Linked DNA regions of Homo sapiens: regions 1, 2 and 3 are each linked to region 4. The links come from fine-mapping of genetic effects on gene expression. A gene starts in region 4. Each other region holds a variant in brackets. All regions are shown on one strand. Distances are between the middles of the regions.

Region 1 (6,016 bases), 21 kb before region 4:
AGGCTGTGTTGGGTTTGTGTCTGTGTCCCTTCCTATCACTGGTGCGCCCTCAGTCTCAGCTGTGACTTTGGCACACAGCAGGTGCTCAATAAATGTTTTTTTTCTTTTCTTTTCTTTTTTTTTTTTTTTTGAGACACAGTCTCACTCTGTCGCCCAGGCTGGAGTGCAACGGTACAATCTTGCCTCACTGTAACCTCCGCCTCCCGGGTTCAAGTGATTTTCCTGCCTCAGCCTCCCGAGTAGCCAGGATTACAGGTGTGTGCTACCACACCCAGCTAATTTTTGTATTTTTAATAGAGACGGGGTTTCACTGCATTAGCCAGGCTGGTCTCGAACTCCTGACCTCAAGTGATCCACCTGCCTCCGCCTCCCAAAGTGCTGGGATTACATGCATGAGCCATCGCGCCCGGCAATAAATGCTTGTTGAGTAAATAACTAAAATCACGTGTAAAGGGAAGAATGCGCAAGGAAGGAGAGAGAAGCTTTGCACACTCAGGAAACCCCCTGACCTGGCAGGGCTGGTGGGCCAGTTGCCCCAGGAACCAGGGGCCCCGGGTGAGTGCCCACACCCTGCCCTACACACCCTGGTGTCTGGGCCCTGCGTGCTCCATCTTTCCCCAGAGGGCGGTCCCCTTGCGGGGTCCTCCACTGCAACCTTCTTGGAATTCCTCCAGCCCCCAAGGCACGCTGCTGCCCTGGGCCTTTAGCCCTCGACACCCTGGGCCCGGAGCCTCTGCCCAAGTCAGCCTTGCCCACCGCGTGCACATCCTTGTCCAGAGCATTTAGAGTCCGCACTCTAGTTCAGTGGTTTATTGATTGCTTCCCCATGACGCTGGGCGGCCCAGCGGGGCAGGGACCTTGACTGTCTTGGTTACCGCGGCGTCAGGCGGGGGAGGCGCTCACAGCTGGCCTAACAGGTGAAGGACGGCGCAGGTGGGCGGAGGCCTGTCCGCCAAGGACCGCCGGGTCCGCCTGTGCGCTGGGAAGGCCCGCCCCCTAGCGGCCGATCTTTAGAGTACGGAGGGCAGCCCCCAAAGGCCTCCCATCCCTGTCCCCGCCCCTGGGCCCCTGGACTCACTTTGATCTCGATCTGCTCCTCCATCTCCTTGCTCTTCATGGCTGCGTACTCCTTCTCCAGCCTGCAGATCGGGAGGGCCCCGTGGTTACTGTCATGCCCTCGGGGGTCCCCCCTTCTTACCAGTACCCTGGTTGCCCAGCAGGCACCGACCTCTTCATCTTCTTGGGGTTGTACTTGACCTGGTAGGCTTTGAGGACCAGCTTGTCCGGGCAGCTGTCGAACTGGTGGGGGATCACTCTCTGGAAGTACTGTGGGGACACAGCCGGTCACCTGGTCACCAACATGCAGGCCCTGACCACCGGGGGCCGCCCGAGCCCTGTTGCCCTGGAGGGGGGCAGGAACGGGTCTGCCCGGGGTGTCGCCATGTCCTCAACGCCGTGTCCTCAGTGTTTGTGGAGCAATGGAAAGACTGAGCGTGAGGGGAGGGAATGGGGGACTGCCTGCAGCCAAAGCCTTAGTTTCCAGAAGAAAAGCTGGCAGATGCTGGATGTGGTGGCTCATTCATATAATCCCAATGATTTAAAAGCCTGAGGTGGGAGAAATAAATAGCTTGAGCCCAGGAGTTTGAGACCAGTGTGGGCAACATAGTGAGACCCCATTTCTGAAAAAAAAAAATTAGCTGGACATGGTGATGTACACCTCTGGTTCCAGCTACTCAGGAGGCTGAGGCGGGAGGATCGCTTCAGCCCAGGAGGTGGAGGCTGCAGTGAGCTAGGACTGCACCACTGTACTCCAGCCTGGGCCACAGAGCAACTCCGACTTAAAAAAAAAAAGAAAAAGGTAAAAGAAAAAAAGAAAAGCAGGCCAAGGAGGCTCTCCTGGGAGTGAAGGCTGAGGGTCGGGGGGTCTGACAGAGGGGACCTTCGTGGGGGAAGGAGGATGGGTATGCCGGGGGCCTCGGGCCTGTGCAAAGGGTTAAGGTAAGCCCAGGGGGGACACAGCTCCTGCACCCGGCCCAGCTGGCCCCCTCTGGTAGCTGTGGACAATGCCTGCCCATGTTCACGGACACAACCGTGGCCTTTGTGCATTCTTCCCTGAAGCACCAGCTGGAGGACGCGGGGAGGGGGCAGGGGCCCGCACAGCAGAGAAGTAGCGGTGGGAGGCAGGCTGGCCAGCAGCAGGGCCTCCAGGCAGGCCGGGCTGGGGCGGGGCAAGGCGTGAGGTTGCCTAGACCCCCAAACTCCCTCCTGTGCCCTCACCAGGCTGGGCGGCAGGGTGGGGATGCCCTCATGGTCAGTCAGTCATGATCTGCCATCAGGCTTTGGGGCATCTGCGGGGTTGGGGGCAGGAGGTGGGCAGTGGGGCTCCCAGGGCTCAGCCTGGGCCTCCTGTCTCCCTGCGGCCAGGCTGCTGGCCCCTGACTGTGTCTGGCAGAGCCTAGGGGGTCCTCTGGTCCCTTAGGGAGACCTCAGGGGAACAGAGTGGATGGGAACAGATCAGGGATGTCAGGCACACCACCTTCCACCCTCGAAGCCGGGCCCTCTCTGTCACTTGTGAGGGCATCCTGTGACTCGAAGCCCCTGATT[G/A]GGGGCAGCCCCACCGGCCCTGGCCCTCCCGGCCCACCTGGGACATCCCCTCCATGTCCAGCTGCATCAGCTCTGCCTGGTTCACCTGCAGCAGGGCGAGGCCCACTCGGAACACGATCTCCAGCCCCTGCAAAGGCGGCAAAGGCAGTGGGAGGTGGAGGGCAGGGAGGCTCCTGTTCCAACCACCCCCAAGGGGCTCTCTTCCCTCCCCAGGCACCATCGGTCCTCACCTCATACATGAAGATGTCAAAGACCCGGGTGGCGACGGGGAGTGGGAAGGTGGTCAGGAACAGTGTGAGGAACCAGGACGAGGCATACATGGATGTGTGGAAGCTTTGGGAACGGAAGTGGGTGTTGAGGTCTGGGAGCTGCTCCTGCAGGGGTGGGAGGCCGGGTGGGCACAGTGAGGGGGACGCCCTCCCACCGGGGGGTGCTGGGCCTCAGTGTCCCCGCCTCCAGGGAGCCTTCCTGGACCTGCGCTGGGCAGCCTGAGGCTCCCTTCCTGGTGCTCCCTCAGCACTCTGTCTGAGGGAGGCCGAAGCACCCCCGAGCTTTGAGTAGCACGGGGTGGGGGACAGGCAGGGATGGCAAGATCTGTAGCCGCCTGTGTTGGGGGCCCACCCTGGGTAGGTGATGCGCCCGTGGCAGCTCATGGGGTCCTCACGACAGCCTGAGAGGGTGTGTCTGAGGCTGGGGGAGTTGGGTCACTCCCCACAGACACCCTGAGACCCAGAGGTGGAGCATGGGCAAGTGGCAGCCTCTGGCCCTGGGGGGAGCCCCCCCCCCACCTTGTTACGTGACCTGCCAGCCACTGTACCTCCCTTGGACCCCAGCATAAAGCTTTGTGCAAGCTGTGTTGGATTGGCCTGAACTCTAGACAGCCAGAAAGTGGCAGACGGCTGGGGAAACTGAGGCCGGAGAAGGCGTTAGGATCCCGGGCTTCCTCCCAGCGCCAGGGGCTCTCTGCGCCCTGAGTTTGCAAGCTTGGCTGTGGGAGGGCTCTGCTACCCAGCCTGAGGTGGGGTGGTGCCTTCTCTGCAGCCCAGGCCTCCTGCTTGTGGCACTACCAGGCCCCCTAAGGCTACAGCACCGTCCATGATCCAGGCCCAGGGAGTGGGGCTGTCACATCCAGGGATGACTGCACAGCCCCACCTGCCATGGCAGCTGAGGCGGGCCGGTGTGTGTGTGTGTGTCTGCGTGTGTGTGTATGCATGCGGGTGTGTGTATGTTCGCAAACGGCCTTGGCGGCTCTGCCTGCCAGCCGGGAGCAGGCCCTGCGGGGGCTGCTATTTATAAACAGACGTCTGCGGCTCTCCAGTAATCAGGCAGGCAGACAACACTCCCTCCTTCCACCACACTCTGGAGCAGACAGGGAGGTGGCTGTGGCTGTGTCCGATGTGAGCCTGCCCCACCCCTCTGCCTCAGCAGCCCTGGGAGCCCCCCTTCAGTGGTGGCTCTCCTGTTCCTCCAAGCATCCTTCAGGGCAGTGCTGCATGGAAAGAGGAGTGCCTTTTGGAGTTGGAACGTCCAGGTGTGATTTCACAGGCTTGGAATTTTCAGTCCAAGAGGTGCCCGGGTATGGTCTAGGGTGCCAGCCCTGCCCTTCTGCGATCCTGCTCCCTTGCGGCCCTGCCCACCTGTGGCCCTGCCCTCCTGCAGCCCTGCTCTCCTGCGGCCCTGCTCACCTGCAGCATGTACTCGAACTGATAGATGCAGAGCCCGAGCTCGGCCATGCTGGGTTTGAAGAGCTCCCGCAGCCGGTACTCCTGCATCAGCCGCACGAACACACAGAAGGCCTCCTCCTCAGGCATCTAGGGGGGACGGGCAGGTGGGGGGGCTCAGGGCAGCGCAGCGGGGAGGGGCATCTCGCTGCTCATCAGGGCCCTGGGGTACAGGGGCCCATGTCCATGTCGGTACCTGGCTCCCTAGACTCTCATGACACACTGTTGGTCCCTGTGTCCTCACAAGCTGTTTTACTGATGGAAGACCTGAGGCTGAGGTCACCTGCCAAGGGCCACTCGGCAGGAAACAGGGGAGCTGGACCTGAACCCAGGGCTGGCCACTGCCAGCATCCCCCTGGTTAGGATACCTCCTGTCCCAGCTGCGTCCTCTCTCCCTGTCAGCCTCCCGATTTCTCTGGAGGAGACCCCCAAGCCCCATAAACACCACGCTGGATGGCTTAAGTCCCCAGCCTGAGGTTCCTGTCCAACCCTGAGATGTGGCAGAGAGAGACAGCCTATCCCTCCAAACCCGGTCTCTGTCCTGGATGGTACAGCAGACAGGACCCAACCAGACAGGTGCCACTCACTGGGCCTTGGCCTGGCGATTGGCAGAGGTCACGGGTGTGGATGGAGAAGGAGGATCTACCCCTAGCAAGACGCTGGGTGGAGGACACGCCACTTCTGTCCATCTCTTGGGGGCCGAGCCCAGGGTGGGCTGTTGTCTGGCAGGAGCCCAGCCACCCCCCAGCCACCTACCTGCATGAGGAGCAGGCCCACGATGAAGGCGCTTCCCTGGCAGTAGCCCACCTCCCGGTCTACCAGCGAGTATGCCTAGAAGGGAACAAGTCCTGAGAGCAGGGTCCCGCCGTCCAGCACAGCCGGTGAACTGGGGAACTTCTCCTTCCTTTGGGACCGAGGGAGCGGGGAGCCCTGGGCCTCACCTTCATGACGTTGAAGAGGACCTCCTGGCCCAGGCTGTCCTGGCCCTTGAAGAACTCATGTTCCGGGTAGGTGCGGGCGATGTCCCTGCGGATCAGCTTCTCGCACGGCGAGGACATCTTGAGCAGCTCGGAGTACTGGTTCTTGACGGGCATGTCCGTGGCGCTGCACAGAAGCTGCCACACGATGGCCCGGAAGTGGTGGGGGATGCCCTTGCGGATCAGCTCCTGGCCACGGGAGCGGGAAGCGGGGGCTGGACTCGGTCCCAGCGCAGCCTCCCCGTGGCCACCCAGCCCAGCTCCTCAGGCGTGGCTCATCCAGGCCTCAAGCATGGCACAGAACTCATGGTCCCCAATCCTTTTTTTACCCCCTTTTTTCAGAGACAGGGTCTCCCTCTGTCACCCAGGCTGGAGTGCAGTGGTGCGATCATAGCTCCCTGCAGCCTTGAACTCCTGGGCTCAAGCGATCCTCCTGCCTCAGCTTCCTGAGTAGCTGGGACTACAGTTGTGCACCACCACGCCTGGCTAATTTTTAAACTTTTTTTTTTTTTGAGATGGAGTCTCACTCTGTTGCCCACGCCGGAGTGCAGTGGCGTGATCTTGGCTCACTGCTACCTCTTGCCTCCCAGGTTCAAGTGATTCTCCTGCCTCAGCCTCCCAAGTAGCTGGGATTACAGGTGCACGCCACCACGCCCAGCTAATTTTTGTATTTTTAGTAGAGTCGGAGTTTCGCCATGTTGGCCAGGCTGGTCT
Region 2 (6,016 bases), 30 kb after region 4:
AAGTTAGCCAGGTGTGGTGGTGCATGTCTGTAATCCCAGCTACTCAGGAGGCTGAGACAGGAGAATCACTTGAACCTGGGAGGTGGAGGTTGCAGTGAGTTGAGATCATGCCATTGCACTCCAACCTGGGCAACAAGAGTGAAACTCCTTCTCAAAAAAAAAAAAAAAAAAGATATCCAAGTCCTAATCCCTGGATCCTATGAATGTCACCTTATATGGCAAAAAGAGACTTTGCAGATATGATTGCGATTTTAAGATAGAAAGATATTGTGTGCTAAATAATCTGTCTAGTCACTACCTCTGGTTCCTGGCAGGGGGCGTCTAAACTCTTGGAATTTTCCAAGTAATAGAAGTGTCTTAATGGCCAACAAACATATGGAAAAATGCTCAACATCACTAATGATCAGGGAGATGCAAATCAAAACCACAATGTGATACCACCTTACTCCTGCAAGAATGGCCATAATCAAAGACTCAAAAAATAATAGATGTTGGTGTGGATGTGGCAAACAGGGAACACTTTTACACTGCTGGTGGGAATGTAAACTAGTACAACCACTATGGAAAACAGCGTGGAGATTCCTTAAAGAACTAAAAGTAAAACTACCATTTGAGCCAGCAATCCCACTACTGGGTATCTATCCAGAGGAAAAGAAGTCATGATACAAAAAAGATACTTGTTCACACATGTTTATAGCAGCACAATTCGCAAGTGCAAAAACGTGGAACAAACCTAAATTTCCATCAGTCAACGAATGGGTGAAGAAACTGTGGCATACATATAAAATGGAATACTACTCAGCCATGAAACGGAATGAATTAATGGGATTTGCAGCAACCTGGATGGGACTGGAGACCATTATTCTAAGTGAAGGAACTCAGGAATGGAAAACCAAACATTGTATACTCTCACTCATAAGTGGGAGCTAAGCTATGAGGATGCAAAGGCATAAGAATGACACAGTGGATTTTGGGGGCTCAAGGGGAAAGGGTGGAAAGCTGACGGATAGAATACTACAAATTAGGTGCAGTGTATACTGCTTGGGAGATGGGTGCACCAAACTCTCATGAATCACCACTAAGGAATTTAATCATGTAACCAAATACATGTTCCCCCAAACCTATGGAAATAAAAAAAAAAAAGAAGCGTCTTTATTATTCATGGGGGCCCTGGACCATAACTGAGCTTATACCAAGGAGGTGACTCAGGATGGGGGCTGGTCATGCCAGAAACACCAACCACCAAGGTTGGGATTTTTAGCCACCTGACCTCCAGGAAGGGGAAGGGGCTGAAGGTGGGGTTCAATCATGTAGATAATGGTTGGATCAACCCCACCTACTTTTTAATCCTGCCTATTTTTAAATACAAAACTAGCCGGGCATGGTGACACACACCTATAATCCCAGCTACCAGGGAGGCTGAGGCACGAGAATCCCTTGAACCTGGGAGGTGGAGGATGCAGTGAGCTGAGATTGTGCCACTGCACTCCAGCCTGGGTGACAGAGTGAGACTCCATCTAAAAAACAAATAAATGAGGCCAGGCGCGGTGGCTCACACCTGTAATCCCAGCACTTTGGGAGGCTGAGGCGGGTGGATCACGAGGTCAGGAGATCAAGACCATCCTGGCTAACATGGTGAAACCCCGTCTCTACTAAAAATACAAAAAATTAGCTGGGCGTGCTGGTGGGCACCTGTAGTCCCAGCTGTTCCGGAGGCTGAGGCAGGAGAATGGCCTGAACCTGGGAGGTGGAGCTTGCAGTGAGCTGAGATCACGCCACTGCACTCCAGCCTGGGAGACAGCGAGACTGTGTCTCAAAAAAAATAAAGTAAATAAATAAATAAATAAATAAATAAAACAAAACAAAAAAGAAGAGCTCACCAGAGCCAGCAGCCTGAAACAAAAGTGCTGGTGGAAAGGTTTATGGGGTGCCAGTTTAGTCAGTCACCCCTGTGTAGGACACCTATGGAAAACTGTAGGGGGCCCTTAGGAGAATCATCTCCGCAAGCCATTAAGTTCCCAGGCCAGAGGGCATGACCTGCTCTGCGGCTTTACACAGAATGCTCTGGGCTGACACACTCCCTTGAAGTGTTGGAACGTGACCAGACATCCTAGCTCCTTGTAAAACCGGCCCCCACCAGCTGCAGCCCGATAAGTTAAAGACTGTCTTAGCAGTTAGACATATGCTTTTAGCTTAAAGGAAATTCATATAACCGCCACTGCTCTACATCTTTCCAATGACGTACGCTCCCGCTCCTTCACCGTTTCATCCCAGCTGCTTCTTAGATCAAAAGATTGTGCTCAATAAATCGTCAGGCAACCAGAACTCTGGGCGTTTTGCAGCCTTCACTCTAGCAACTGGCCCCCTGGGCCTGCTTTAAAATCTTAACTTGTCTTTTCTCATTCCTTTGTCGCCACCGGACTTCAGGTACCCACGGGTAGTGTTGAGGCTGGACCCCACCATCTGGCGCCCAACGTGGTATCTCCAAAACAACCGGGTGAAGGAATGCAGGAGCGTCGAAAATGAAGGACCGACAGATGGAGAACTCCCAAGGACGAAAAGTTTTTTTTTAATTTTTACTTATTTATTTATTTATTTATTTTTGAGACGGAGTCTCGCTCTGTCACCCAGGCTGGAGTGCAGTGGCTCGATGTCGGCTCACTGCAAGCTCCGCCTCCCGGGTTCACGCCCTTCTCCTGCCTCAGCTCCCAAGTAGCTGGGACTACAGGCGCCCGCCTCCACGCCCGGCTAACTTTTTGTATTTTTAGTAGAGACGGGGTTTCACCATGTTAGCTATGATGGTCTTGATCTCCTGACCTCGTGATCCGCCCGCCTCGGCCTCCCAAAGTGCTGGGATTACAGGCGTGAGCCACCGCGCCGGCCAACGAAAAGACTTTTAAGCTCTGCAGGTAAGCGGGGCGCTCGGAGAATTCCAGGGTAACAACAGGAAATTGTGGGTCAGGCTGAGAGTAGACATAATAATTATTTGAGTTTGGTGCGGCAGTTATTGTGCCACTGTGGTTAAACGTGAGCACCCAAAATCTTCTGTCCCTGTTTCAGCTAATAGAACAATATTCTCCTTGGTTCCCGGAACACAGCTCCATGGATTTGAAAGACTGGGAAAAAATAAGGGCTGACTTCAAACAGGCACAAAAAGAGGGTCAAGAAATTCCTTTCTCCGCTTGGTCTGTGTGGGCGGCAGTGAAAACAGCACGTGAGCCTTTGCAGACTGAGGAGGAACCAGCATTTGGAAATGAAGGAGACGAGTTTGACGGTCAGGAGAGTGCACCATCTAGCTCCAGTTTAAAAAAGGCGGAGAATCAGGAGGTTATATATGCTAACCAAACACATATGAAAGAGACCGTCCAACCTACCGCACCCTCAGGGGAAGCTCCGGAATGGCCACCCGCGCCTAAGCCTTGTGAATTGCGGGCATGGAAGCCTGAGACGCGGTTCGCCGCGCCCATTGTTGCAAAACCTGCCGTTAATTACGGTAAAGGGATGATTCAGGCTCAGCCACCAGTTAATTAAAATTCAGGCTCGCCCTGCCGTTCATTACGGGGAAGGAGCAATTTCCCTTAAAAATGGATGACCCAGCGCCCTGTCTGGGTCGAACAGTGGCCGATCCCTAAGGAAAAATTGGGGGCGCTTTATGAAATAGTTAAAGAATTACTAGAAAAAGGACATGTTTCACACCCACTTTTTCTCCTTGGAATTCCCCAGTATTTGTAATTAAGAAAAAGTCC[G/C]GCAGATGGCGCATGCCGACCGATTTACTAGCGGTCAACGCTGTAATTCAACCGATGGGAGCTTTACAACCAGGGCTCCCATCCCCCATTATAATCCCTAAAGACTGGCCGCTTGTTATTATAGATTTAAAAGATTGCTTTTTTTTTTTTTTTTTTTTTTTTTTTTTTTTTACAATTCCTTTAGCAGAGGCAGATTTCGAAAAATTTGGCTTTACCATCCCTGCAGTTAATAATAAAGAACCTGCAGCCAGATATCATTGGAAGGTTTTACCTCGGGGTATGTTAAACAGTCTCACAATTTGTCAGACTTTTGTAGGCAGAACTATCCAGCCTGTTAGAGATCAATTTCCAGATGTGTGCAGCAAAAAATAGAGGCCAACTTATTCAATGTTATTCATCTTTGCAAAAGGCAATTACAAACGCTGGATTGCTTAAAGCATCTGACAAAATTCAAACAACCACTCCTTTTCAGTATTTGGGAATGCAAGTACAGGATAGAGCATTAAGCCTCAAAAGGTTCAAATTAGAAAAGCTTCTTTAAAAACCTTAAATGGGCGGGGGGGCAGTGGCTCACGCCTGTAATCCCAGCACTTTGGGAGGCTGAGGCGGGCGGATCACAAGGTCAGGAGATCGAGACCATCCTGGCTAACACAGTGAAACCCCGCCTCTACTAAAAATACAAAAAATTAGCCGGGCGTGGTGGCTGCGCGCCTGTAGTCCCAGCTACTCGGGAGGCTGAGGCGGGAGAATGGCGTGAACCCGGGAGGCGGAGCTTGCAGTGAGCCGAGATCAAGCCACTGCCCTCCAGCCTGGGGGACAGAGCAAGATTCCGTCTCAAAAACAAAAACAAAAACCAAATAAACCTTAAATGATTTTCAAAAATTGTTAGGCGATATTAATTGGATTCGGCCCACCTTAGGAATTCCTACTTATGCTATGTCTAATCTCTTCTCAATACTGAGGGGAGACTCCAGTTTACACAGTAAAAGAGAACTAACACCCGAGGCCATGAAAGAGTTAAGAGTAATTGAAGAAAAAATTCCGCAAGCCCAGGTCAGTAGGATTGACCCAGACTTGCCTTTACAATTCATTGTTTTCCCTACTTCACACTCCCCAACGGGGATTATTGTTCAAAATAATGATTTAGTTGAATAGTCCTTTTTGCCACGTAATACCATAAAAACACTTACAGTATATTTAGATCAGATGGCAATTTTAATTGGACAGGCTCGTATGCGAGTTGTTAAACTTTGTGGCACTGAACCTAATAAGATTATAGTTCCTATAAATAAAAATCAGGTTAAACAGGCATTTATTAATTCAGTTACATGGCAAGTTTATTTAGCAGAATTTGTTGGATGTATTGATAATCATTATCCTAAAAATAAAACTTTCCAGTTCTTAAAATTAACTACATGGGTTCCTCCGAAAATTACTCGTGATGCCCCTTTGGAAGGAGCTGTGACTGGTTTTTTTGTTTTGTTTTTGTTTTTTGAAACGGAGTCTCGCTGTGTCGCCCAGACTGGAGTGCAGTGGCGCTATCTCGGCTCACTGCAAGCTCCGCCTTCCCGGTTCACGCCATTCTCCTGCCTCAGCCTCCCCAGTAGCTGGGACTACAGGCGCCTGCCACCACGCCCTGCTAATTTTTTTGTATTTTTAGTAGAGACGGGGTTTCACCGTGTTCTCAATCTCCTGACCTCGTTATCCGCCCGCCTCGGCCTCCCAAAGTGCTGGGATTACCTGCATGAGCCACCGCGCCCGGCGGGAGCTGTGACTGGTTTTACTAATGGGTCTGGTAAAGATGGAAAAGCGGCAGTCTGGTGGAGACCACGTAATCCAATCACTGGATCTAAATTTACTAGCATTCGGAGAGCTGAGGCTGTTCTGTTTATTTATTAAATTACTTTTACAGCCTTAAGTTCGCTCTGGAGCCCACTCTGTGTGCCTCTTTTTCTTCAACTTCAGCAATTGCCGGACCAAGGTACACATCCTATTTTTATTACACACGTTTGAGCCCACAGATCTCTGCCTGGCCCATTGGCTTGTGGCAAGATCAAGCAGACCTTCAGGTTATGACATCACTGCTTGACCAAGCCACCCAATCACATCAATTTTTCCACCAAAATTGGAGAAACTTATCTAAACAATTTCAACTAGCCCAGAGACTGGCTAAACAAATTATCCTACAATGCCCAGATTACCAGCTGACAGGCACGTTTCCTCCTTAAACAGGTGTTAACCCTAGAGGATTGGAACCTAATCAGTTGTGG
Region 3 (6,016 bases), 31 kb before region 4:
GCTAGGAAGCGGGGACGGAGCAGGGGTCCCCACCCAGGAAGCGCCAGGGAGATTGCTTGTGACGCTACTCTACTGGAGGCTCCGGGAGCACCGAGGGGGGCAGCCCCCAGGGTCATGAGGCCCGGGGGGCCGGGGGAAGGGAGGAAGGGGCCTGGGGGGCATCGTTGGATTTTGGCACCGTTCTCAGCTCTGATTCAGCAGAGACAACGGGACCACCAGGAGGAAGTGAGGGGAGGCCGCTCGCTGGGAAGCTCCTGCCTGGGGGCCTGGCTCTGGCTGAGGGTGGGGCTGGAAACACATGAAGAAAGGGAAGTAGATGGAGACCGAGGACCCCTGTAGAGATACCCCTCCATCACTGGCCAGGATAGGGGGCGCGAGTGTCTCCCAGAGAAAGATGTGGGGCACTGGGGAGAGGGGTCTCTTCACTTCCTGGAAGCTGCTCTGGCCCCAGAGAAGCAGGGAGGCTTCCCGTTAGCCACTCAGTCCCCAGGCGCCCCGCACATAGTAGGGGGACTTTGGTTTCCGCTGCAGGGGCCACGGTGCCTGCGCCAGGCAGGAGAGGCCGGCCTGGCCATCTGTCCCCAGCGGCCTGACTCCCCTAGAGATGGCCAGGGGCTAGTCAAGGGTCACTTCATCCCGAGGAGTGTTGTGGGGTGCTGATGTCCAGCCCAGAGCTGGCGCTCTCCTTCCTCAGGCCTCGGCTACCTCCTGAGCACTTCCCAGCAATGTCGCCCCTGTCCCAGAAGGAAGCCTGCCAGGAGGTGGGAGCTGCCTGCTCATTCAGTGCTGGGACCTCTGGGTCGTCTGTCCCCTGCCCTCTGCCCTCCTGTTAAGAGAGCAGTCAGCCCCTCCAGGCACCCCTGGAACGCCAGAGGGCCCGGAGGGGTACAGACCAAGATGGGTAAACACTGCTGGGGATAGAGAGCCTGCCCCGGGGCCCTGAGGAGCCCAGGTCGGACCCTACCCTCTGCGCTGCCTCGCCGGGCCTCGCTTTAGGGGTGGCCGAGCCACAGAGGGCGCGTAGTTTGTCAAGTGCGGCAGGTGGGGAGCAGAACGCGGACTGCCCGGGCGCCCCCCGCGGCTGCGGCCTCCTGACTCCGGGCGCGCTGGGCATGGCCTCAGTTGTCCAGACCCTGGCTGTAGGGCGCGGCCAGCTCATCGGCGTCGCTGTCTGAGCTGCCCTCGCTGTCCTTGGCCGGCCGCTCCAGACGGCGGAAGAAGCGCGCATCGCGCGGGGACAGAGGGTACAATGCGTCCTGCAGGGCAGCGCCCACGCCTACGCCAAGTAGCTCCTCGTCCGACGACGGCAGCGAGTCCTCGTCCAAGTGCCGCGCCAGGCTCAGCCCATCGAAAGCCAGCGGGTCCTCGAAGGGCGGCGGGCCCTTCAGCAGCCGCACCTGGGGCGGGGGACCGGCGCTGCAGGCGTGGACCGGCCTTCTGCCCCGCCCTCCCAGCCGCATCCTCCGCAAGGCACCTGCGCTCGGCTCGTCCCAGGCCGACGACACCCAGGCCTGTCCCCGGCATCCCCGCGCCGGCTCACCTCGGCCTTCAGCTCCTCGATCTGGTCCTTGAGCTCGCGGATGTACTGCGATGAGTCCGAGTGGTTCAGCTGGCCCTGGATGCGGCCTTCCTCCCTCTGCGGGGTGCGCCAGGTCACGCGGGGCCAGTGCCATGCTGGGCCTGGGGTCCGGCCCCGCTCCTGCCCCGGGCCCTGCCCCCGCCCCCGCCCCCCGACCCCGGCCCCGCCGATCACCTGGATCTCCAGCTCGGCAATGCGCTGCCGCATCTCGGCCACCGCAGCCATGCTGTCCGCCTCCCGCAGTCGCACAGCCATCACCTCCTCCTTGCTCTGGGGTCGGGGGATTGGGGGGAAAGGAGGGCGGGTCAGGGGGCGCGGCGCATCAGGGGGCGGGACCGCGGGCAGGGGCGAATGAGGAGGCGGGGCCGCGGGCGGAGGCGGGTCAGGAGGCAGGACCGCGGGCAGGGGCGGGACCGCGGGCAAGGGAGGTGCGGGCGGGGGCGGGTCAGGAGGCGTGGCCGCGGGCGGGGGCGGATCAGGAGGCGGGACCGCGGGGGGGGGTGGTCAGGAGGCGGGGCCGGATCAGGAGGCGGGGTCGCGGGCAGGAGCAGGTCAGGAGGCGGGGCCGCGGGCGGGGGCGGGAGGACCGCGGGCAGGGGCAGATCGGGAGGCAGGACGCCGGCAGAGGCGGATTGGGGGCGGGGCCTCATGTAGGGGCGCGTCCGGGGGCGGTGCCACGGGCAGGGCGGGGCCGCGGGGGTCTGCACCTTGCACTCGGCCTCGGCCTGCTTGCGGCGGCTTTCGCTGAGCTGCGTCTGCAGCCCCTTGTTCTGTGCAGCCAGGTACTGCAGCTTCTCCTGCAGCGCCGCGCGCTCCGCCTCCACGCGGTTCAGAAGGTTGCGGTGGATGTGGTCCTGGGATAGGGAGGAAGGGAGGACGGAGGACGGCGGCGGTCAGGGCCTAACTCAGGGGCTGGCCACGGACACCACGCCCCTTCCCCAACGAGCAGGCCCCCCGAGTCCACCTGCGTCTCAAGTTCCACCACGCGCTGCCGCAGCTCGCGGCCCTCGGCCAGGGCCTGGGCCTCGCGCAGACGCACGCTCATCAGCTCGTCCTGCAGCTCGCCCACGACCAGCTTCCGTGGGGACTCCTTCCAGCGGCCGCCGCGGGCCAGATGGGCCTGGGGGGTGAAGCCGAGAAGCCGGCGGTCAGCCTCCGCCCAAGAACCCCGAGGGGATGGCCCTAGGGG[GC/C]GCTCTGCCCGCCGGCGCCCACCCGGCCCTCACCTGCCAGGTGTCCGAGAGCTCCTGCAGCTGCAGTTTAAGCTCTCGCGTCGAGGCCACCGCCTGGCCTTCCCGCACCTTGAGCGCCTTCAGCTCCTCCTGCAGCTGCGCCACATTGTTCTCGTCGGGCAGCGAGCTGTTCCTCTGCGGGAAGAGTGGGGTCAGGGCCTGGGGGAGCAGCGCAGCCGCATGGCCCTTCCTGCAGGACAAACGCCCCCAGCCACGTTTCCTCCTGAGCTCTGCCTTGGGCGGCTCAGATGGGGGAGGGCGACCCCCTTGACAAGGCCCACGGGGAGCGGACTCGCCTGTGGAACCCGGTTGGAGTTCCTCAGCTATAAAATGGGTGTAGTAACAGCACCTACTCTCACAGGGTGTCCTAGGGCAACCCCCATAAACGCCGCGCTGCACACACTGACTCCCCGAGGTCTGAGATCCATCCCCTCAGGGACATGATCAGGTGGAGGACCTGCCCCAGCAGAAACACCCTGTCTGCCCTCTGGCCCCCAGGCCAGGCCACACCAGGCCAGGCAGTCCCTCTCCCTGGGAACAGGCTGAGTGCCAGCCTTGGCCCTGTCCTGGTGTCCCAGGGCTCATTGATGGAGGATTTGTGCTCCAGGACCCAAATCCAGCTTTCTGGATGAGGTCCGCACTGACCCGTGTTTGGGTCTAGGGCTGGGACAGATCTAGCAGCATGTCCTGGAGGCACACTTCCCTATGAAGTGGAGGGAGGCGGGAGCGGAGCCCAGCTCTTGGCTGGTGATGAGGGCCTGGAAGCAGATGGCCTCTCAGTCCTCCATTTGGGAGGACTCCCAAAATAGTGCAGGCTCGAGGGGGTGGGGAATGGCTCCTGCTGAATGTGTGAATGGGTCCCTGGGTGCTTTCCTTCCTCTGGGAGCTCCGTGGGAGAGTGGAGTCGATGCCAAGTCAGAGAGCAGTTGGGGAGGAACCCAGAAGCCCTGGGATGGTGTCTGCATGGGAATGTGTAGGGAGGCAGCCACAATGGGCCTGGGCCTTCCTTTCTCTCCTTCCTGTCCCCCTCCCCCATCCCCCTCTCTCCTCCCTTCCTTCCTGGAACCCAGTACTGGGGGAAACACACACAGGTGGGATGCAGGTATCCGGGAAGCTCATAGAAGCTGCCACGCTGCTGGAGTTTGCCTCATACAGGAGCGTGGGCATGCCCCGCGTGGGGTTGTGCTGTGTGTGTGCATATGTATGGTTGTGTGTGCATGGGGGTGGGGGATTCTGACCTGGGGTCACTCCCAAAGCTTATCCAGGACCCCTCCTGTGCCCCAGGGTCCCCCCGACACCTGCCCGTCTGCCTCCCCATTGCACCTTTTCCATGTCGAGAACCTTGTCCTGCATCTCCCGAAGGGCCCCCAGTGTCTCCGTCTCCCGCAGCCTCGACTGCTCCAGCTCGGTCTCCAGGTGGGACACGAAGTCTTCTGTGAGGCGGGGGTTCTCCTGGGGGAGGCAGAGAGCTGCGTGGGGCCCCAGGCCATGGCTGGGGGATGGGCAGCCTCCATGCCTGCTGGCTTCTCCCCGCCTCCCCAGAGCCCTTCAGCAGGGAGAGGGGCCCAGGCTTGGGGTGTCCTGGGCTGGACCCCCTGATGCTCAGGGCCTAGAGGTCCTGGCATCCATGCAGCTGGCCCGGTCCAGCTTCCTTCCTGGAAAGGCTGCACAGAGGGGACATTCTGAAAGGTGACTTGCCTTGGCCTTCGGATGCCCCGCGGGACCCCAGTGACTGGTTTTCCGGGATCACTGGTGAGGGTGGGAGATGGGTTCTTGCTGGGTGGTCACCGTTCCAGCCACATGGTGGGCGAGGCAGGGGGTGGGGGAGAGGCCTGGGGCTGTGCACCTGTCTTTCCACCTCTCTCCTCTGCATCCCACCCTCCATTTCAAATCAGGGAAGGATGAGGAAAGAGTTTGTGGGTATCACCCTCTTGCTCCATGCCCTGGCTTCTCAGAAGTTCCCCAGTGGGGGCCCCTGGAGTGATGGACACTGCCACCTGGACCTGAAAAAGGACACCTGGTCCCTGGGGTGGGAGCCGGGCTCCCTCTCACTGACCTTGTGGCCTGGCAGGACAGTTCTCTGGGGGACTGCCTCAGCCCTCCCAGCCACCATCCTCTTCCTGTGGGTCTCTGAGATCCACGTGTGACGGTGGCTCTGCCTCGGCCCAGATGGCCTCCAGGCCCCATGTGGCTCCTCTGGGCCACCTCATCTTGCCTGCAGTGGCCTCCCTTTGGGCCTGAGGAGGTGGCCTTGGGCCTCCCCGATCTCTGCATCCCCCCAAGGTTGGAGCTCAGGGGTGGCTGGTGGAGTCTCTCTAACGAGCCTGAAAGGCGGCCTCATGCAGTGGGTGGGATGAGCCCAGCCTCAGTTTCCCTAATGTCCATGCTGCCTCAGAGCAAGGTGGGACAAGAGTGCTCACAGACTCTGAGGGCCACAACGCCAGCATCATACGGATGTGGTTCATGGGGACAAGTGAGAAACAGTGAAGCTCTCCTTCTCCCCAGGAGCAGTGGATCCGCTAGAATCCCTGGGCCAAGGCTTGAGCCACAGTCTCTGGGCCTGGGGGCGGAGGGGGCACCTCTGTATTGGATGGCTCTTCTTTCTCAAGCACTCCATGGTTTCTCCAACCTACACCCCACTGCCAGGCCCTGCTGGGTCAGGCCAGGATGGCAGCGGGACCTACAGCGTCGCTCCCGGCCCCTCCAGGGCATGTGTCCCTGTGGCCTGCAGGGCTTAGGACTGCAGCCACTGGGGGTCCCTGCGATCAGGAAGGCCAACTGCTGAGTGCAGCTGCAGTTAAGTTTTTTTTTTTTTTTTTTTTGAGATGGAGTCTTGCTCTGTCACCCAGGCTGGAGTGCGGTGGTGCCATCTTGGCTCACTGCAACCTCCACCTCCCGGGTTCAAGTGATTCTCCTGCCTCAGCCTCCTGAGTAGCTGGGACTACAGGTGCGCACCACCATACCCAGCTTATTTTTGTATTTTTATTAGAGATGGGGCTTCATCATGTTGGCCAGGCTGGTCTCGAACTCCTAACCTCAGGTGATCCACCTGCCTCAGCCTCCCAAAGTGCTGAGATTAAGGCGTGAGCCACTGCACCAGGTCGCAGTTAAGTTCTAAAAGCTTTCAGGAGAAGAAAATCTTGGGGTGGGGCCCCACTCATGGGCCTGCCCATCATGGGACCCAAAGTTCATGGCCCTCAAGACACTC
Region 4 (6,016 bases):
CTGCTAGCATGTGTGTGCTGCAGTCTTCCCTGGGAAGGGCGGCTTTGCTGCCTTTCCAAGTTCTCCCAACTAGGGATCCCCTTTGCTGGGGAGCCCCCCACCATGTGTGCCAAGTGTACAGATGGCACTGGGGACACAAGGGCTTGTAGTAAGACGCCTATCAAAGGAAGTACAGGGACACGCCTCCCTGAGCGCACCACGCTTGCTCCTGCCTCTTGGGCGTGTGTCCAAGCACTTCTGCTGCCTGGAACACCCTTCCCTGCCACGCCTGCCTGTGACCTGGTCCATACGTCATCCCTGCTGTGCCTTCCCCAACACCCCAGGGATGCATCAGGCTTTTTTTCCGGGCTCCCATTGCAGCCTGCTGTACATAATTCTGTCTCATGCTCCCCGCAGCAGGCCTCAGGCCAGGATGGCAAGGGCGCGTGCTGCAATCCTGGTTCCTCCGAGTTTTGGGGAGGATTAAATGAGATAATATGTCAATGGTGCTTGGCATGGTGCTGAGCACATGGCGGGGGCCGCCGCATGCCAGTGAGAGGACTTTAGACGCAGAGCAGGGACCACATTGTACACATCTTACATTCCTTCACACCCCAACATCTGACTCCAGGCCCAGGGCTTCCCTGTAACAACTGGCATCTCTATTCTGCAAGAGGAAATTGAAATATACATTCCTCCTCATCCGTCTGCCCCCTCAAAGCTCAAACAAAGATGCAGCTCCACGAGCCCAGTCTCGGGTAAAACTGCGTTCGTATCACTGACAAGTCCTCCTCGTGGTTTCCTATAGAGTTCACAGTCATCCTGGGAAGCCTTCATACCCCACTGTCTCTGCACAAAATTCCACCCTGGGGAGGCTGTAGAGTTTAGTTTCCTGTGCGTGAGAGATACCACGTGACCTTCAGGAGTCTTTTCCTCCACGCCTTCCTTCAGCAAGTGGACAGAACAAACCTCTTCCTACCCGGTGTCAGAGGTCTATGTGGGGCATCAGAGATCTATGTGGGGCCTCAGCATGGCTATCCGACAGCCCCTCATGCCCACCCTGTTCCCCGTGGTCCTCCTGGGAAGACCCTGTGTATAACCACAAGTCCTGCAGCAGACCATCTCTCATCTCCATTCTTCCAGCTCTGATTCGAGCTGGCTCCCTGCAATACAGCTCAGCCCTAGGAAGATGGCCACTTTTCAATGAAGTGTCAACTAAGACCCTCGCAGGGACCTGGGTGGCCAGTGATTCACAGGAGCCCATAGGACTCCCCTCCGAGACCTTGCTGTCCCCTTCCACACGGCACTGGGGGAACACACAGGGCCACACCCTAGCCTTCCTGCAGTTCCAAGTTCTGTTCTAAAAATTTAGCCGCTCTCCCCGCACCCCAGTTTCCGATGGGGAAGTTGAGGTACTGAGCCGCAATGAGCTTTTTCCTGGATGGTCCACAATCCGCTAGTGAATATCCACAAGGAAGCCTGGGCCTTTTATCTCAGGGTTTCTGAGCACAGTTATGTTGTCAGAAGGACCCCAGACGCACAGTGCCCAGGCTGCGCGGGACTGGACCGGCCCGGCTCCTCGCCCCCTGCAGTCCTGGCCACAGTGTCGCGCCAGCATCTCCTCTCCTGTCTTGTCTCATCCCTGTGCCAGGGCCAAGCCACCTGCGATCCCTTCCAAACCACCCTCCGCTGACCACAGAAGCCCAGAGGAACCTACAGGTTGGACCCTGAGGCCAGAGCTGGGAGTGGGGAGGGCGGCGGGATGGATGGGAAGAGCCACAAAAGACGGAAAGACACAGGGACACGGGTCCTCTAGCTCAATCACATCCCGGCCGAGGGGGAATAAAACGAAGCAGACAACTCATTCATGTTCCACTCGAGCCTCTTCAGCACATTTTTCCCTTCTGAAAATATTCCTTAACAAAGAGCTGCCTGCTTCTGGCAGGCCCCGACCCAGGTCTCAAATGCCAAGATAGAAGGAAGCTGTTTTGTTTTGGCCAAACACACTAGTTGTGGGTGAAAGAACTCTCGGGCTGTCAGGGGCCAGCTCTGAGGAGCAACCTGGACCGCCCTGCTGGCTCTGGCATTTGAGGCCAGTAGGCGTGATGGGGTCAGGAGGCTGGGGGCAGACTTCAGGACGGAAGCCAGGAGCTGTGAATCCTCTCCCTTCCCGCCAGGGGGTGGCATAAATCAGGGGGCGGGCAGTGGTTCCTTCGGGACACTAGTGTAGGAGAGAAAGTGAGCGTCCTTCCCTTTGAAAGGGCACAGCAGGGAAGGATGGATAACTTGGCAGAGGCCTGGGGCAGGTTCCCACAGGGGTAGGTGCTGGGGGATTCTGGGGCCCTGTCACCCTCCAAGGCTCCAGTGTGGGCGCTGGTTTGGTGGAGGGGCAAGTTGGCTTCCTGGGGTGCGGCAGGCACCTCATGGTCTCTGGAATCTCTGCTTGAGCTGGGGGAGCTGTCGGGGACTCTGGGAGGGCCTGGACAGGTGGGATCTGAGGAGGGGTGCAGAAGTGTTGAGTGGGTGGGGGCAGGGGCAGATATGCCTGGGGTCTATGTTGGAGCTCTTAAGTTTTTCTGTGTGTGCTGGGGGATCTAAGTGACTGTGTGTGTGTGTGTGTGTGTGTGTGTGTGTGTGTGTGTGTGTGTGTTTGGGGTTTTCAGAAAGATGGGTGGCTCTGGATGGGGAGTGGGGTGGTTCAGAATATCCAACGGGAGGTCTTGAGCATGGGTGGATTTTTCAGGATCCAGGAGCCAGGATCCAGATGGGGCAGGATCAGTGGAGCTACCACAGTGTGCTGGGTGGACGCCGGGGAGTGGTGTTTAGGGGTGCCCTTGGGCATGTGGCAGCTGGGGTGGGAGATGGGCTAGCAGGCTGAGCTGAGGGCTGTGGGCAGGGGTAGGAAATCCGACTTACAGAGGCCAGAGAGGGGTCCTGTGGGGTCAGCATGGGGGGCGGGTAGGCCCTGAGGCTGGTCTCCTTGGGGAGAGGTGGGGGCAGTTCTGGGCCCAAGATAGGAGGACGTGAAGTGAGGGGGTGCGGGGAGGGGGTGGCAAGTGTTGTCCAGAAGGGAGGGGTCCTGAGAGATCAGGGCAGAAGGTGGACGGGGGTTCTTGGGCTTGGGGGGCGCTTCTGAGGGGCTGATCGGCGGAGTGGGGGGATGGGGAGCCCTGAGGGGGTTCCCGGAGAGGAGTCCTGAGGGTCACTGCAAAGGGTGGACGGGGGTCCTGGGCCTGCGGGGTCCTCATGGGGAGGGGACGGAGTGGGGGAGGGGGATCCTGCAGGAGCTCCTGGGGAGGGGTCCGGAGGGATCGGCAACGAGGGTGGGCAGGGGCCAGGGTCCTCCGAAGGTCCCGGGCTGGGGATGCCGAGGCTCCCAGCGCGGGTTCCGGGGCACGACGGCCCGAGTTGCGGTCCTGCCGGTTCCCCGCGGGCCGCATCACGGAGCCGCCGGCCTGAGCAGGCGCCCGGGAGGCCCGGCCCGCGCCGCCCTACCTGCGCCGAGCGCGCCGCCATCTCCGTGCCGAGCCTCGCCGCCCCGGGCTGAGCCGCCGGATCCTAGCCGCGCCGTTCGCCCCGCAGCCCCGGCCCGGCCCCCTCAGCCGCCCCCCGGGACCGCGGCCGCCGCCGGCTCCGCCGCTGCCATTTCACCCGCTGACAGGAGCCGCTGCCCCGCCCCCGAGGCCCCATCCGCCAATTCGCCGCCCCCAGGCGCCCTGGCCCCGCCCACCAGCCAGGAGTGACGGGGTGTCTGACCATTCCGTGGCCATTCCGTGAGGCGGGCCCTGGCTACGTTCAGAAGGTTGCCGCCTCTGAGGAGAGAGCGAATTGAAATGAGGGAAGCGGTGAAGGACAGGTAGTTTTGCGTATCGGAATGAGGAATCCTATTGATCAACACCTGATAAGACCAATAGCAAGGAAAGTGGGGGTGTGTCCGTGAGGAAAGGCTGCGGCCCTGAGGAACACCAGGCAGACGCGGCCAAGCGTTTGGCACTAAGCCCCGCCCAGAGCCGGGCTTTCTGCCCAATAACGAGACGCCCCGAGACGTCCATTATTATCTGCCCCTCAAACCTGGGCCCTGGCAACTGCTGGGGGCGCCATAAAGAAGATTGACACCTAGGGAACCAATGCTACTGAAGGAGGGCGGGAAAGTGACACTCTCTGACCAATGGGTATGTGAGATTGGTGGGAGCATTGGCGTCCTGGGCGGTGGGGCTTGAGGCCTGGGTTGAATGAAATGGGGGTGGGGCTAAGAGGAGGGCGTGGCCTAGGCCAGAGATGGGGCGGGGTCAAGCAAGGGAGGGGCTCGGGGGTTGGGTCTGAGAAGGGGCGTGGCCAGAAATCCTGAAGACTCACTGGGGACGTGATGGCACCGTGTCGTCTAGGAGCCCAGTTCTGTGCTGGGGACGGGGCGGTTGATATTGGGGGCGGGTCCCATAAAAGATTCAGGCCCGTCCCCTGTCTTACTCCAGGCCAGGTTAAATGTGTTCTCTAAAGCTCACAGAGCCGCGTGTTTCTCCATCAAAGCTCGGTTCGCGCCGTGATCGTGGGGAGGGATAGGCCCTCCCATTCCCCATCCTCCCAGGCTGATAGATCCTCGGGGAGTCGGGATGCAGGGCCTAGGTCGGGTCTCTTCCAGGTCCCCAGCATGGAAACTGCTTATAAACATTTGATGAATGAATGAATGAAAATGGGCCCGTGACTCTTTTAACAGAGAAGGGAGAGGTGGAGAATCCTTCAAGCTAGAGAGGAATTCGTAGGGACAGTTACTGACAGCGGGCAAGACTGACCAAAATGGACTTATTTCCTCCCCAAGATGTAGGGATGGGCCCTGGAGGGGGTGGGGCAGGGAAGGACCTTGTCATAGCAGAGAGGGTGACGTCATAAGTGTGTTTTTATTTATTTATTTTTCAGAGACAGGGTCTCGCTCTGTGTCCCAGTTTGCAGTGCAGTGATGCGAACATAGCTCAATGCAGCCTCGAACTCTTGGACTCCAATGATCCTCCCGCCTCAACCTCCCCAGTAGCTGGGACTACAGGTGCGTGCACACCATGCCCGGCTAATTTTTTTGGTAGAGGCTGGGGTCTTGGTATGTTGCTCAGGCTAGTCGGAAACTCCTGGTGCCAGGTTCTCCCACTTCAGCCTCCCAAAGTGCTGGGATTACAGGCATGAGCCACCTCGCCCAGCTAGATGTCCTAAGTTCAGAATGGGGAAGGGAAGGCTGGACCCAGGGAGGGGCACGTCAGGACTTCCTAAGGTCTGAGAGCTCAACCTTCTCTGTAGTAGGAGACTCTGTGTGGCCTTGCAAGCAGTGACTGACATCCACGTATGGTCCCGGCCTCTGTCCAGCTCTCTCTGCCTCTCCCTCCCTCTTCCTGTCTATTTTGCATCTGCCAACGTTCTGGAACTGTTAATAAACCTCCCCAGGGTCCGGGCGCGGTGGCTCACGCCTGTAATCCCAGCACTTTGGGAGGCCGAGGCGGGCAGATCACGAGGTCAAGAGATCCAGACCATCCTGGCCAACATGGTGAAACCCCGTCTCTACTAAAAATACAAAAATTAGCTGGGCATGGAGGCGGGTGCCTGTAGTCCCAGCTACTTGGGAGGCTGAGGCAGCAGAATCGCTTGAACCTGGAGGCGGAGGTTAAAATGAGCTGAGATCGCTCCACTCTACTCCAGCCTGGCGACAGAGCGAGGCTCCGTCTCAAAAAAAACAAAAACAAAAACAAAAATTAGCCAAGTGTGGTGGCGCACGCCTATAATCCCAGCTACTCAGGAGGCTGAAGCTCGGGAATCACTTGAACCCGGGAGGCAGAGGTTGCGGTAAGCAGAGATCATACCACTGCGCTCCTGCCTGGGTGACGGCGCGAGACTCTGCAAGCAAGAAAGGAAGGAAGGAAAGAAAAGAAAGAAAGGGAAAGAAAAGAAAAGTCCTGGGGTCTCTGGTCCTAGAATACTAGCAGGAATGTGGGAGACAGAGTGGTCTGCGGAGGTTCAGGCCAAGGTGGGGTCCAGAACCTCCCTAGGAAGAGGTCGT

Evidence for each region. PIP is the estimated chance that this variant, and not a neighbour inherited with it, causes the effect.
Region 1: its variant is fine-mapped to the expression of EVI5L in blood mononuclear cells (TOPMed, PIP 0.98).
Region 2: its variant is fine-mapped to the expression of EVI5L in whole blood (TOPMed, PIP above 0.99). The same link has a PIP of 0.9 or more in blood mononuclear cells.
Region 3: its variant is fine-mapped to the expression of EVI5L in whole blood (TOPMed, PIP above 0.99).

What each region holds. Positions count from the first base shown.
Region 1 is chr19:7,848,396-7,854,411 of GRCh38, reverse strand. EVI5L (ecotropic viral integration site 5 like) reads right to left here. Exons shown (of 20, transcript NM_001159944.3): 4 at 5,267-5,491; 5 at 5,082-5,156; 6 at 4,290-4,415; 7 at 2,835-2,978; 8 at 2,642-2,731; 9 at 1,229-1,326; 10 at 1,079-1,139. Among named protein-coding and RNA genes, the nearest start is that of EVI5L, 21 kb to the right of the region's middle. The variant G/A (reference allele first, on the strand shown) is at 2,605.
Region 2 is chr19:7,797,493-7,803,508 of GRCh38, reverse strand. All of the region lies in intron 1 of LOC124904628 (a long non-coding RNA gene), which reads right to left. Among named protein-coding and RNA genes, the nearest start is that of EVI5L, 30 kb to the left of the region's middle. The variant G/C (reference allele first, on the strand shown) is at 3,747.
Region 3 is chr19:7,858,805-7,864,820 of GRCh38, reverse strand. EVI5L (ecotropic viral integration site 5 like) reads right to left here. Exons shown (of 20, transcript NM_001159944.3): 14 at 4,132-4,260; 15 at 2,803-2,943; 16 at 2,544-2,699; 17 at 2,287-2,433; 18 at 1,754-1,849; 19 at 1,541-1,636; 20 at 1-1,397. The coding sequence ends at 1,119. Among named protein-coding and RNA genes, the nearest start is that of PRR36, 13 kb to the left of the region's middle. RefSeq lists enhancers at 356-1,064, 2,159-2,796, 2,797-3,436 and a silencer at 2,067-2,336. The variant GC/C (reference allele first, on the strand shown) is at 2,769.
Region 4 is chr19:7,827,840-7,833,855 of GRCh38, reverse strand. It overlaps EVI5L (ecotropic viral integration site 5 like), which reads right to left and starts at 3,638. Exons shown (of 20, transcript NM_001159944.3): 1 at 3,475-3,638. RefSeq lists a silencer at 3,542-3,781.